Regions from separate parts of the Homo sapiens genome. Here region 1 is linked to region 2. A link means that fine-mapping ties the variant in region 2 to the plasma level of a protein whose gene starts in the linked region. Region 2 holds a variant in brackets. A gene starts in the other region. All regions are shown on their reverse strands.

The links. PIP is the chance, under the fine-mapping model, that this variant and not a neighbour inherited with it causes the effect. The UK Biobank Pharma Proteomics Project read protein levels with antibody pairs (Olink). The fine-mapping took linkage between variants from a reference panel, not from the people measured, so its PIPs are less certain.
Region 1: SCGB3A2 starts here. The variant in region 2 is fine-mapped to the plasma level of the SCGB3A2 protein (UK Biobank, PIP 0.90).

The regions. Positions count from the first base shown.
Region 1 is chr5:147,876,050-147,881,426 of GRCh38, reverse strand. It overlaps SCGB3A2 (secretoglobin family 3A member 2), which reads right to left and starts at 2,716. Exons shown (of 3, transcript NM_054023.5): 1 at 2,569-2,716. The coding sequence starts at 2,623.
Region 2 is chr6:50,816,605-50,821,981 of GRCh38, reverse strand. It overlaps TFAP2B (transcription factor AP-2 beta), which reads right to left and starts at 3,111. Exons shown (of 7, transcript NM_003221.4): 1 at 3,010-3,111. The coding sequence starts at 3,090. LOC124901490 (a long non-coding RNA gene) reads left to right here and starts at 2,956. Exons shown (of 2, transcript XR_007059923.1): 1 at 2,956-3,080; 2 at 4,338-4,737. The variant C/A (reference allele first, on the strand shown) is at 2,236.

The DNA of each region.
Region 1 (5,377 bases), not on the chromosome of region 2:
CAGGTGAGACAGGCACATCTGGGCCCAGACTATGACCTCATCTTCTTTCCCTGTGTCCATCAATAGCTCCATTCCAGATCCACTCATCTTACTTCCATTGAAAACTTCTACCTCTGGCCCTTTGCACCTGCTGTTCCATCTCCCTAGAACTTTTTTTCCTTAGCTAGCTACTTACCTTTCTTTCTCACATTATTTGGTCTCTCTTCAAATATTACCTCCTCGGAGAAGCCTGCAATGGCCATAGTCACTCTCCGTCATTTATTTTTTCTTACCATTACCTAAAAAAAGCAACTCTTCATTTGCTGTTTTTATTGTCTTTATTTTCTCATTAGAATGGAGGCTCCATGAGAACAAGGAATGTGTGTTTTTTCGCTAATGCACCCATGCCTACAACTGACCCTGGCAGCGTAAGCATTCAACAGATCATTGTGATTGTCTGAAGGCGATGGTATTTTGTATGTGACTGTCTCCACAGCTCACAGCTTTGAGGCTAAAGGAGAGATGCTATAGTGAATCTCCACATAAAGACAGGAATGGACCCAACCACAGCCCAAGAAACTGCTCCCAACCAATTCAACTCAACGCTACAAACATAATTGAGCACCAACTCTATCTAGTCTGTGCAGATACATAGACAAATAAGACAAGGATGCCCATTCAGAGACTTCACACAGTCCAGTTGGTGATAGAAGATCTGTGTATGCCACAGTGTAGCATGTGCTATGCTAACATTATGGACAAAGCTCCATGGAAACACAAGAAAGGGATGACTAATTCTAACATGAAAGAGTGCTGCAGGAATTTTCCAGAAGTGCTGTTAGAGCTATGTCTTGAGGCAAATGTCAGGATCATAAGGTAAAGAAGAGGAGAAGCATTTTAGAAACATGACCAATAAAGGCACGGAACCATTAGGATAAAAGTGCATACACAGGATGGTGAGCCTTCTGCCCAGAAGGCTGGAGTGCAGATTTCCAATAGGCTATGACCAAAGGATGGAAGATAAAGGGAGTGAGGCTGCAAAAGTTGAGTGAGGTCAGATTTTTTAAAGTGTTGGATGTCACACAAAGGAGTTTGGATTTTTTTTTCCTGAGGGCAGTGGGGCGCTATCAAGGCTTTTACATAGGAAAATTACGTTTTATATCTTTGGCTTTAGGAAGATAACTTTCCCGTAGAAGATGAATGGTGGGAAAAAGTAGAGATTGAGGAAAATATGTACGATGTATTTTTTACAAAAACATGTGCAGATATATAAATGCACACATGCATGTGAGCACACACGTAAGAACACACATCCTCCTACTGGCTAAGACCTGCCATAGTTTATTTTCCTTTGGAAACCTATTATTTCCCCATTCAAATTATTAAAATGGAGCCTGTATATATTTTTTTAAATTTTCAATCACCTATTGTCCCTCCAAAATTCTCACCCAGAGGGGGCGGTATTTATTTTCCCCACCTCCTTTCTGCTGCCACTTTGCCCATAGATACCTGTCCCTGGACATTAGAGAACAGTGAAATATCCAAAACTGGTGAAGTTACAAATTCCTTCAGAAATTCAATAAACATCAAAAGCCAAAGTTGCCATTGTAGGTGTGGGCGGCAATCAATTTTTCATTATTAATCTCCATACTTCTTATTTCAGACATTTTGGTAAATATCTTCTCTGTATGTGTTTACAGCTTCCTGGGAGAAGATCTTCAAAGCCTTCTGTTCTCTCAATGAGCAGTGGCTATCATGAAATCTCTTTTTCCCATGTGCCCACACTGTCTTCCTGATAGTTACAATGATTCCTTCCAAAAAAATAAATCAGTTCCCATTCTCCTCCAAGAAGCCAGCTTCTATACCCTTACCTGAAAATTAAACTAATCACCCACCAATACACTAAAAGAGTTCTATCTGGATATCTCACAGTACGTTTACAGTAGTCTAGAATTATAGTAACTTAGGCAGAAGCCCTATCTATCCTACCAGAGTAGCACCTTAAGAACAATATTTATGACTGCTTCATGTCTAAATCTTCCAATGCCTATCCAGTGCCCAACAAATTGTAGCCATTCAATAAATATCCATTGAGTGGATAAACAGATGAATGTAGCTATCTCAGGAGAACCAAGCTAGCAAATTGGATAACTGGAGATGATAGCAAGAATGACTCCATATAGTTCAAAAGCACAAAAGAAATTATAAAGTCAAATTTTAACTCAAAATTGAGGAAAATAAGAAAAACGAATGGTGACCAATATCCAGCAGTGAAATGTGCTTTGTTGACCCTCCGTGGAAGTTGGCTAACTTCCTATGTAGGATGTATTAGAATACTTATATTGGGCTAGAGCTTAGATGGTGGGGATCTGAAATACTTTCCAACATCACCATTTTCTGTGATTCCAAAACTTCTTCCAACCCTGCAAATATGTGCAATTATTATGTGTCAGTTAAAAGTAAAATAAAAAAAAATACAATTCCTACCACCATATTCCACTGTCAGTGAGGCAAGGCTTACTAGTTGTGCTCTTATTAACAGAAAAGTAAAGAAATGTCACATATTCCAGATGTATTCCAGTTACTTACCAGAGTAACTACAAAGGCTGATGGTCACCAGCAGGAAGATAGTTACCAGCTTCATGACAGTTATCTGGGATATTTTTCAGGAGTTTAAAAATCAGAAAAATCTAGCAAAATCCACCAAGCCAGTGGTTCCACTTGCCATACAAAGTGTGATGGCTGCTTTTGCACACACATATTTATATGCCCATTGAGGACCTGAATTCTAGTCCCTACCACTTGACTCACCCCACCAAAGAAAGGGATAAATGTTATGTTTTCTCACCAAACAATTTGGAGGGTTTTCCACTTCCCCGTGTGTTCCCATGAGAAACAAAGCTCTACAGTACAGCATTCTCAAGTACCTCTTGCATAAACCCTTGCACAGAAATAAAAGCAGAAGGCAAAGAGCCCAACGAATCCTTCTCCTGGAAGAACATTGAAAAGAAGTGAAGAATTTATATTTGGATTAGAAGGAGTGTTTTCCTCTGGTTTTCTACATTTTTCCCCAGTTTTCTAATCATTTAAAGTTTGGAGAATCACATTAGCTGATGAACTACCCAGTTGTGAAAGCAATCTGGAGGCCACTCTGGTATAATACAGAGTCAGCTTCATGACATTTAGTGCCACATTTCTCTGGAATTCACCTGCCCCCAGCCCACTCACACATCTACTATGGTAAGATTTTCACACCTCTGTTACCTTTTCCAGTGTCAGTTACTTTGAGTATGTTCAGAGCATGTCTTCTCTGAGCCTTTGGATAGAATAATAGGCTTAAGATCTAAAATCAGAGTGTCTTTTGAAAAACCTGGGATTCAATTTTCACTGTTTGTGTAATCTTGGATTTGACATTTTTAATCTAGGATATTGGTCCTCTCATCTAAAATGGGAACATAAATAACACAACCAACCATAAGGTGTGTAGCTTGGGGAAAAAATTGTTTTTGCAAGATTCTTTGGCAATCAAATCCGATAAAATCATTCAAAAATACGTAATTGTAAGGTACTGGCTACAGGAGTAGTAATTTGTTTCCAAGGCTGTCTTTCTGGATCCAGGGTTCAGCCACAGGACCTCAGGACAACTTCATTTGTGAGCAGAAGTCCTGGAGTTCTTTGGGGCATCGAGTGGGCCCGACATGCAAGGAAGAGGGTAAGAAAGAACCATGAAGGGGTGAAATAGAAAGCGGAGTCCATATGGGCACAGGACCAGCTCAGGGCTCCCCGGCCACGTGGTACTGCTGGCTCCAGCCATTCCCACCACCAAAGTGGAACCCAGAAAATTTTGAGAAAACACACCTTAAGATGTAAGGCCAGAGGTTGGGGCTTTATTTGTCCTCATCTGAGGGTGTGGTATTGTAATGAAGATCTAATAAAATTATGCAGACAGAGCATTCTGCTATGCCAAACCAAAATTAATATCTAATTTATGTCACATTTTACTAATTTTTATGTTACCATGTTGTAACTGTCATTTCTTTATCTTTCTGCTACTTTATAAACTACTTTATAAACTACATGAAAGACACCATGAATGCCTGCCATGCACCTCAATCCTGCCACTTCTCCTTCTTTCTCTACCAGTACTGCTTCCATTTCTCCCACATATTCCCACTGATGCCAGTGATATTAATATACCAAGCCCCTCAAAGAGCCAAGGTTGGTGGTAAGATTGATGCCGTTGCCGGAGGAACAGGGTCCAGCTGCTTGCTCTCGTGGTCCAATGATGAGATACAGGTGAACTGGGAAAGAAGCGAGTTTATTTTTGTAACCAGCCACAGGGAGAAGGTCGGAGTAATTTACCAGACCAACTAAAAGTTATGAGTTTTTCCTTTAGTATATATAAATGAATTTCAAGCTCTATGCCTATATGCAGGAGTATTTCTACTTAGCCTAAATCTAATCTTTAACTAGTGGTCTGTGGGCTGGAAAGTTTCTTAATTTTACATGGGTCCTGGTATGGTTTGTATGTGCATGAATGCTTTTATCACTCAATCAGGTTTGAGGATGAGAAAGCCCAGGTAGGGTCTTAACGGGTTTGTTTCTGCATTCCAGGTCTCCTACTCAGGCACCAGTTTCTCTAGTTCTTCAATGTTTAACTTACACATTCATCATTACAGCAAAGGGCTTATGGAGACTTGGTTGCTTGTGGAGATCCAGCCTGCCACAATGACGCCCTTTAGTTTTTTATTATGGTCTCTTTTGGAATACTAAACCAGTGCTGCCCTCAAATTTGTTTGCTTGCTTTTAAATCCTTTCTCTTCACTTTCATTCCTGGCTCTGTATTATAGAAAGTTGACTTTTTAAAATGTGGTTTCCAGGCTTCCTTGCTTCCAGGCTTCCTTGCCAACTGCATCTGATTAAGTTAAGCCAGGGGAAGGCACAGGTGAAAGAGTGGAGAGAGAGAGAAAAGGAGAAGGGATATGTCTCCCTCTCTCCAATTCAGGAGCTATCATGGGTAGTGGCTGCACCCTCTCCAAGGCTCATCTCCTTTTGGAAAGGTCCTTTATCTGTGGTTCCCCCTGTGCCACACAGGCCAACATTGTTCCAGCTTTTACTGCATGGCCCCAGCTCCTAGACCCCACCTTCTCATCACTGTCCTTCCTGACCTAGAAGGAGTAACAACTTTCTGCATTTTCTAATCTCAGAGTTGATTCATCTTCTGCTTGGTTGCTTTAACTGCATTTCTAGCACTTTGTAAATTACCCTACATGTTGAATTCTTTCTGTGTGGTCACTTGGTATGGTTTTAACTTTTTGGCTGGACTCTGACTGACACAGCATCCTAAAATATTGTAGCGCTTTCAATAAAAAATAGGTTTTCCAGTTTCTAAACTGAC
Region 2 (5,377 bases):
CCCCCACCCCAACAAGATTGGCGATGCCTGTCACACACAGACAGAACTATTCATCTGTCTCTTTGCTGTCTTTTTGGCCTCTTTTCTTCTGCCGTTCTTCGGGGCTCCAGATGCAGTCCTCTTTCACCCGAAGCTGGGCTCAGACTGCTCGGCCGCCCCTTCCTCCCTCCGCTTGCCTACACCGCCTCATAATAATTGATATTCATGACTATTAATATTACACGAGTACTTTAAAGGGAGAATAGAGGACAAATGGAGCGTGAAGCAGCAGCGAGCGCAGAGCTCCCCTACTATTGTAAATGACGTTCATTCAGTGGAGAATTACTAGATGTAATCAGACGAGGGGGCTGGCAAAGGCAGACTGGGGAAAAAGTTTAGCAGGAAAGAGGCAGAACTTCAATTAACTGTGCCGGGGACACGAGTAAAGCAGCCCCTGCTCCTTTGGATAAGGCAGTGAGGGAGAACAGTGCTGGGAGGTTGTATAGAATGGAGGTGTCCTCCTACCTGGAGAGAGACTTCCCTAATCCGGAGGACTTGGTCGCCTTGGGTGCTTTGTGTGAGGATTACAAAAACAAAATAAAAAGGGTTGCTTCATCATTTGGAGGCGAGAGAAAGGCAAATTGGTGGGCCTGGTTATTTACAGTGACTTTTGCAGACTTTTGCTAAATGTGGAAGATTATGCTCATTTGTTAAAGGACAGAAGCGAGATGGAGGCTTTTCATTCCTGTGCAGCCTTTTCCTGTTTAGTGCTCACATAGTTTGCGATTTTTACCTCAATTTAAAACATACGCCATCAATCTTCAAATACACTAAACTTATCCTTTCCAGGCAAAGCCAGGGGCAACAGAAAACCTTTTTGGATGTTTCAGGAACCCGTTCAACTGGCCTGACTGCCATTTCTGTTAAAGTTCAACCTTAGTCCAGACTTAAATAGGCTCCTTCCACCGAGCTGCGGATTCTGTTTTTTGAGCAGAAAATTTAGGCAGATAGGACCACCTGTAATATTCCCTCTCTCTCCCTGTTTATTTCTCTTTCTCTCTCTCCCTCCCCTCTTTTCTCTTCTCTCTTCCCTCCCTTCCACTCCACCCCTCCCTCTTCCTCTCTCCCTCCCTCCTTTCTTCTCTCCCTCCTTCCTTTTCCATTTAGCTACTTTACTTTCTGTAAAGAACGAATGTTACCCTGGTTACTTTTTAGAACCCACTGAAATGCCTCTGCATGCATATAGCTTGAGCTGTTTTCACCATGGCCCCGTGCTTGCTAATGTCATGCCCACTTTGGGCGCTAATATTCTTTAGGACAGTTCTAGCGCCTTGGACTTTACCATTATCCCGCCTGTTAAGGAAAGAAAAGGAGGCCGAACCGAAACAATCCCCACCAGGCGCGTAGGCGCGGCTCTTCGTTACAGTCGATACACAACCACAAAGAGAAAAGGAAAACCCCAAGCATCATTCAGCAACAAGACCAATCTCTCTCCTCTCTGCTCTCTCGCGCTCTCTCCTGCTTTTCTCCCTCTCCTCTCTTATCTCCTCCTCCTCTCTCCTACATACCTCCACACATACACACACCCCAACATTAGGATTCGGGGGGGGGCAGGAGGTGTGGGCGCCAGGCGCTGCCTGTGGGCGCTCGTCCGAGCCCGAGTCCCCCAGGAGCTTGCCGGCCGCGCCTGTGAGTCGCCCACTCTTAGGATCTTCGAGGCGGCTCTGCGCCGGGCTTTCAGGAGCTGTCCCGATCCGGAGGGGTCGCGTGTCTTTCTCGGCTCTTTGGGGAGCCTCTGCATCCCTCCACCTTTCGTCTGACCTAGCGGCCCGCGCCCGCCACCCGGGAGTCTGCTTCTCTTCCTTCCTTTTCTCTCCAACTTTTCCTCTTAGCAATCTCCATGGCCCGCTTCGCCCGCCTCGACTTCCCTCCTTTTCTAAATCCGCTTCGCCTTTCCGAAGTTTTTATTTCCAACCTCGACGTCTCAGCAGAACCTTCCCTTCCTCCCTTCCCCTGGCAACCACCTGGGGCTGTCCCAGACCATTCCGCTTAAAAGCGAGGCTCCGCGGGCTTCCCGGTCCCCAGCCTGGCCCGCCGCGCGCCCCGCGCCTCGCCCGCCTCGGCCGCCTCTCCCACCTCGCCCGCCTCTCCCACCTCGCCCGCCTCGGCCGCCTCGTCCGCCTAGTCCGCCTCGCCCGCGAGTAGCGGAGCCGTCTGGCCGCGTCAGCCCTCGCCCGAGCCGGAAAAGGGCTTTGG[C/A]GAGCGCGGTCCGGGCCCCGGAGGCGGCTGGCGTCCTCCTGGCTGGGCGCAACTTCTCCTGCCCCGAAGAGTTGAGCTAGCCTCAGTGCTAGAGACCCGTACGCATTGAACGTGGGCAGAAATTTCCGTGAAAGATGCCCACACAGGAGGCGGCTGCGATTTCTGTTCGGACGCAGTGACCCTCAAGGAAGCAAAACACAAGAAAACAGAAACTAATAAACTGCTACGACTTCTATTTTGCTCTATCCATCCATATCTCCAGCCATCTACTTCTTTCCCGCTAATTCTCTGTCCTCTACTTGGAACCATTTGTTATCAATTTCAGAAATTTTATTGAAAATAAAAATTAAAAGCCCGAGTCTGTTACAAATGAGGCTTGAAAACCCAATTCTCTTCCACACTTAAAACGAGAAAAGCCCCTGACTTTATCAGAATCTCGATTTTCTCTGAGAGCGTGCCCACATTCAGTAGCACCACATTCCCCATCAGAGCTTAAAAGGGTGGGGTGGGGTGGGGGGAGGCGAGGAAAAGGGAAAGAAAAATAAAATAAATAAAAACATTCCTAAATTAAAGTTGTCAGATTTCAGCCTTAAAGTCCCTTTTCAGAGCAGCGAAGTCTTCCCTAGCCAGCTTTTCTAAAAGTTAAAAAAAGCTGAGAAAACCGACCGGAAATCTACGAGTAAATAGCTTAAAAATATATATCATTTGGGGTATCAAGAAGCTCAAATTCTCTATCTGCAAAGCTCTAAGGTGCATCTGGGGGTGTCGACTCACCTCATAGATATCTTCGTACTTGACATTCTCCACAAGCTTCCAGAGCATGATGGCAGCCTGGTCTCTAGGAGGTGAGTGCATTCATGTGAGGAGCAGATGTCTGGCTTCTCAGGACTCCGCTGTCTGTAATGATCCATCTATAATTGGAAATGGGGGATACACACCAAATCCGACGCTCCTCTCCCATCGCAACTTATATCTGTTGTCTCAAACAATAGGCTGGACAAGTAAGCCTCAGCAAAGAGAAAAAACATTATTGCACACACAGGAGTTAGATGCAACCCACAGACATATATACTATAAAAATCATAAACCCGTATTTACACCCAGACACCCACATATAGTTATATAAGCACCTCTGGGTCACACAGTCTGCAGACTCCAAATGTGCATTTAACAAAGAGTTGTTCAGGGTGATTAATATAATATATACATTTTATAACTTCTATATCGAAAATGACACATCATTGTAGCCACTAACTGAAGTCTTTGCAATTCATAATGAGAAACCAGGGGCCATCAGTCCCCTATTTTCTATGTAGATTTTAAAGGGGGACACTTACCAAGATTTTTAAACACAAAAGCTCCCTCCTATTCATGTATGTTCCGGAAGAGAGTATTTTGAAAGGCTGGATATGGGGGATTTTAAGGACTATCTCTGTGTTGATGGCTACACAACTTTTTTTTTTTTAACTTTATCTCTGTCACCATAGAACAAAAAAGCTAGCCACCGTTGATGACCATTTCTAATATTTTCTGGTCATTTTACCTAAAACCTTTGGAAACTTAAATACACCTCAGTTTGTGCTGCTTGTTATTTTAGGTGTTGTTTGTATGCATTTTCAACGGATTCCATGCACCATTCCTCTTGGCTGGAGTCTCCATTTTATCAAGTTTTTTTCAGATGTTGGAAGCAACGTACGCACACGTTCAGACAAGGTTAATTTTGAGCCTTTTTTGCAGAGGCCAAGGACATTTTATATTTGCATCTGTTGTGTATGACTTGTAAGTGGTTTTAATCATGGAGAGTCAAGAAAGGGCCACCCGAATCTTTGAAAAGGTTTAAGCAGAATGTCTTCAAAGAGATAGTGAAAAATATTTTAGTGCATGTGGAGTTTCTTCTTTTTTTTGTATAATTTTTCTTAATAAGATGATTCATATAGTTTTTAAAAAGGAAAACATCATCAGCAACAAGAACAATATTAACCAGACTTAGAAAATGGGCACCATTTAAGGCGCAGGGATTCTGAATTTTATCATGAAATGAATACTCATCTGTTCCCCTGTTCCCCCTTTCCCATCCCCTCTGTTTTTCTACTCCCTTTCAGGGTGCGGAGAGCTTCTCATAGCCGGAACAGACGCCCAGAAGAGGATCTCTGCGCCTGGGACAGAAAAGAAATGCCAGGAGGGACCGAGGAGGGATGGGGCAATTTGGGGTGGAAGTTATTAAGCCTGGTGAGAGTGAATCTGCAAAGGGTGATTGTCTTTAAATCCAGGACTGCTGTGTGCAGCTCTGCGCGAACAGGGATGGACGCTGTTTGAGTACAGGGCTCCGGACAACCTTGTTGGACGTCGATTCAATCAAAACCAAGGAGAAGCTTCATGAACTGCAGAATAAACAATTCTGCAGATTTTTAATTTAATTTTTAAAGATAAGTCAAAGGAAAAGAACACAAAGAAGGTGCTTCAGAAGGAACTTCAGAAATAAACCCCTTATTTCCGGTTGAATTTTTTATGTTTCGTCTTTCCTTTTCTCCTCTTCCTCCTTTTTGTTTTCCTTTTTTCTTTCCTTCATTTCCCTTTTCGTTCCTTCCTTTCTCTCTCCATTCCTTTCTTCCCCTTTAAATGTTAACCTTAAATCATACACAATCTATACAGATTTTTCACTAGGAGCATCAGCAAAGATTTTCTTCTTTGCTTCCAGAGCTAGTTAGGAGATGAGAAGGGATTTTTCTTAATCTTATTGTGTGGTGGGACTTGAAACGGGTTCCACACCCCCTGACTTCTAGAACTAAAATCAGTGCCAGATCAATAATCTGAAAGATAAATATTATAGACTTGGAAGTTCAGATTCTCCAGGCACAAGACATTTAATTAATGGAAATAATTGTTTTCTCCCTTTCAAATCAATAATTCTGTCATTGTTATTACCTAAAGATCATTACAACCCAAATAAAATGCATTTGGAAAAATCTCACTTTTTTTCTCTAAATGCTTTTAACACCTTTTAATATCTTTTTGGTATATTATTGCCTAGTCTAAAATAAATAAACTCTGAGATTTAACAAAACAAAACCTGCAAGAGATAATTTTACACATAAATTAAAATAATATAAGGTATTGTGTTAGTATAACTATTTTATAGCCT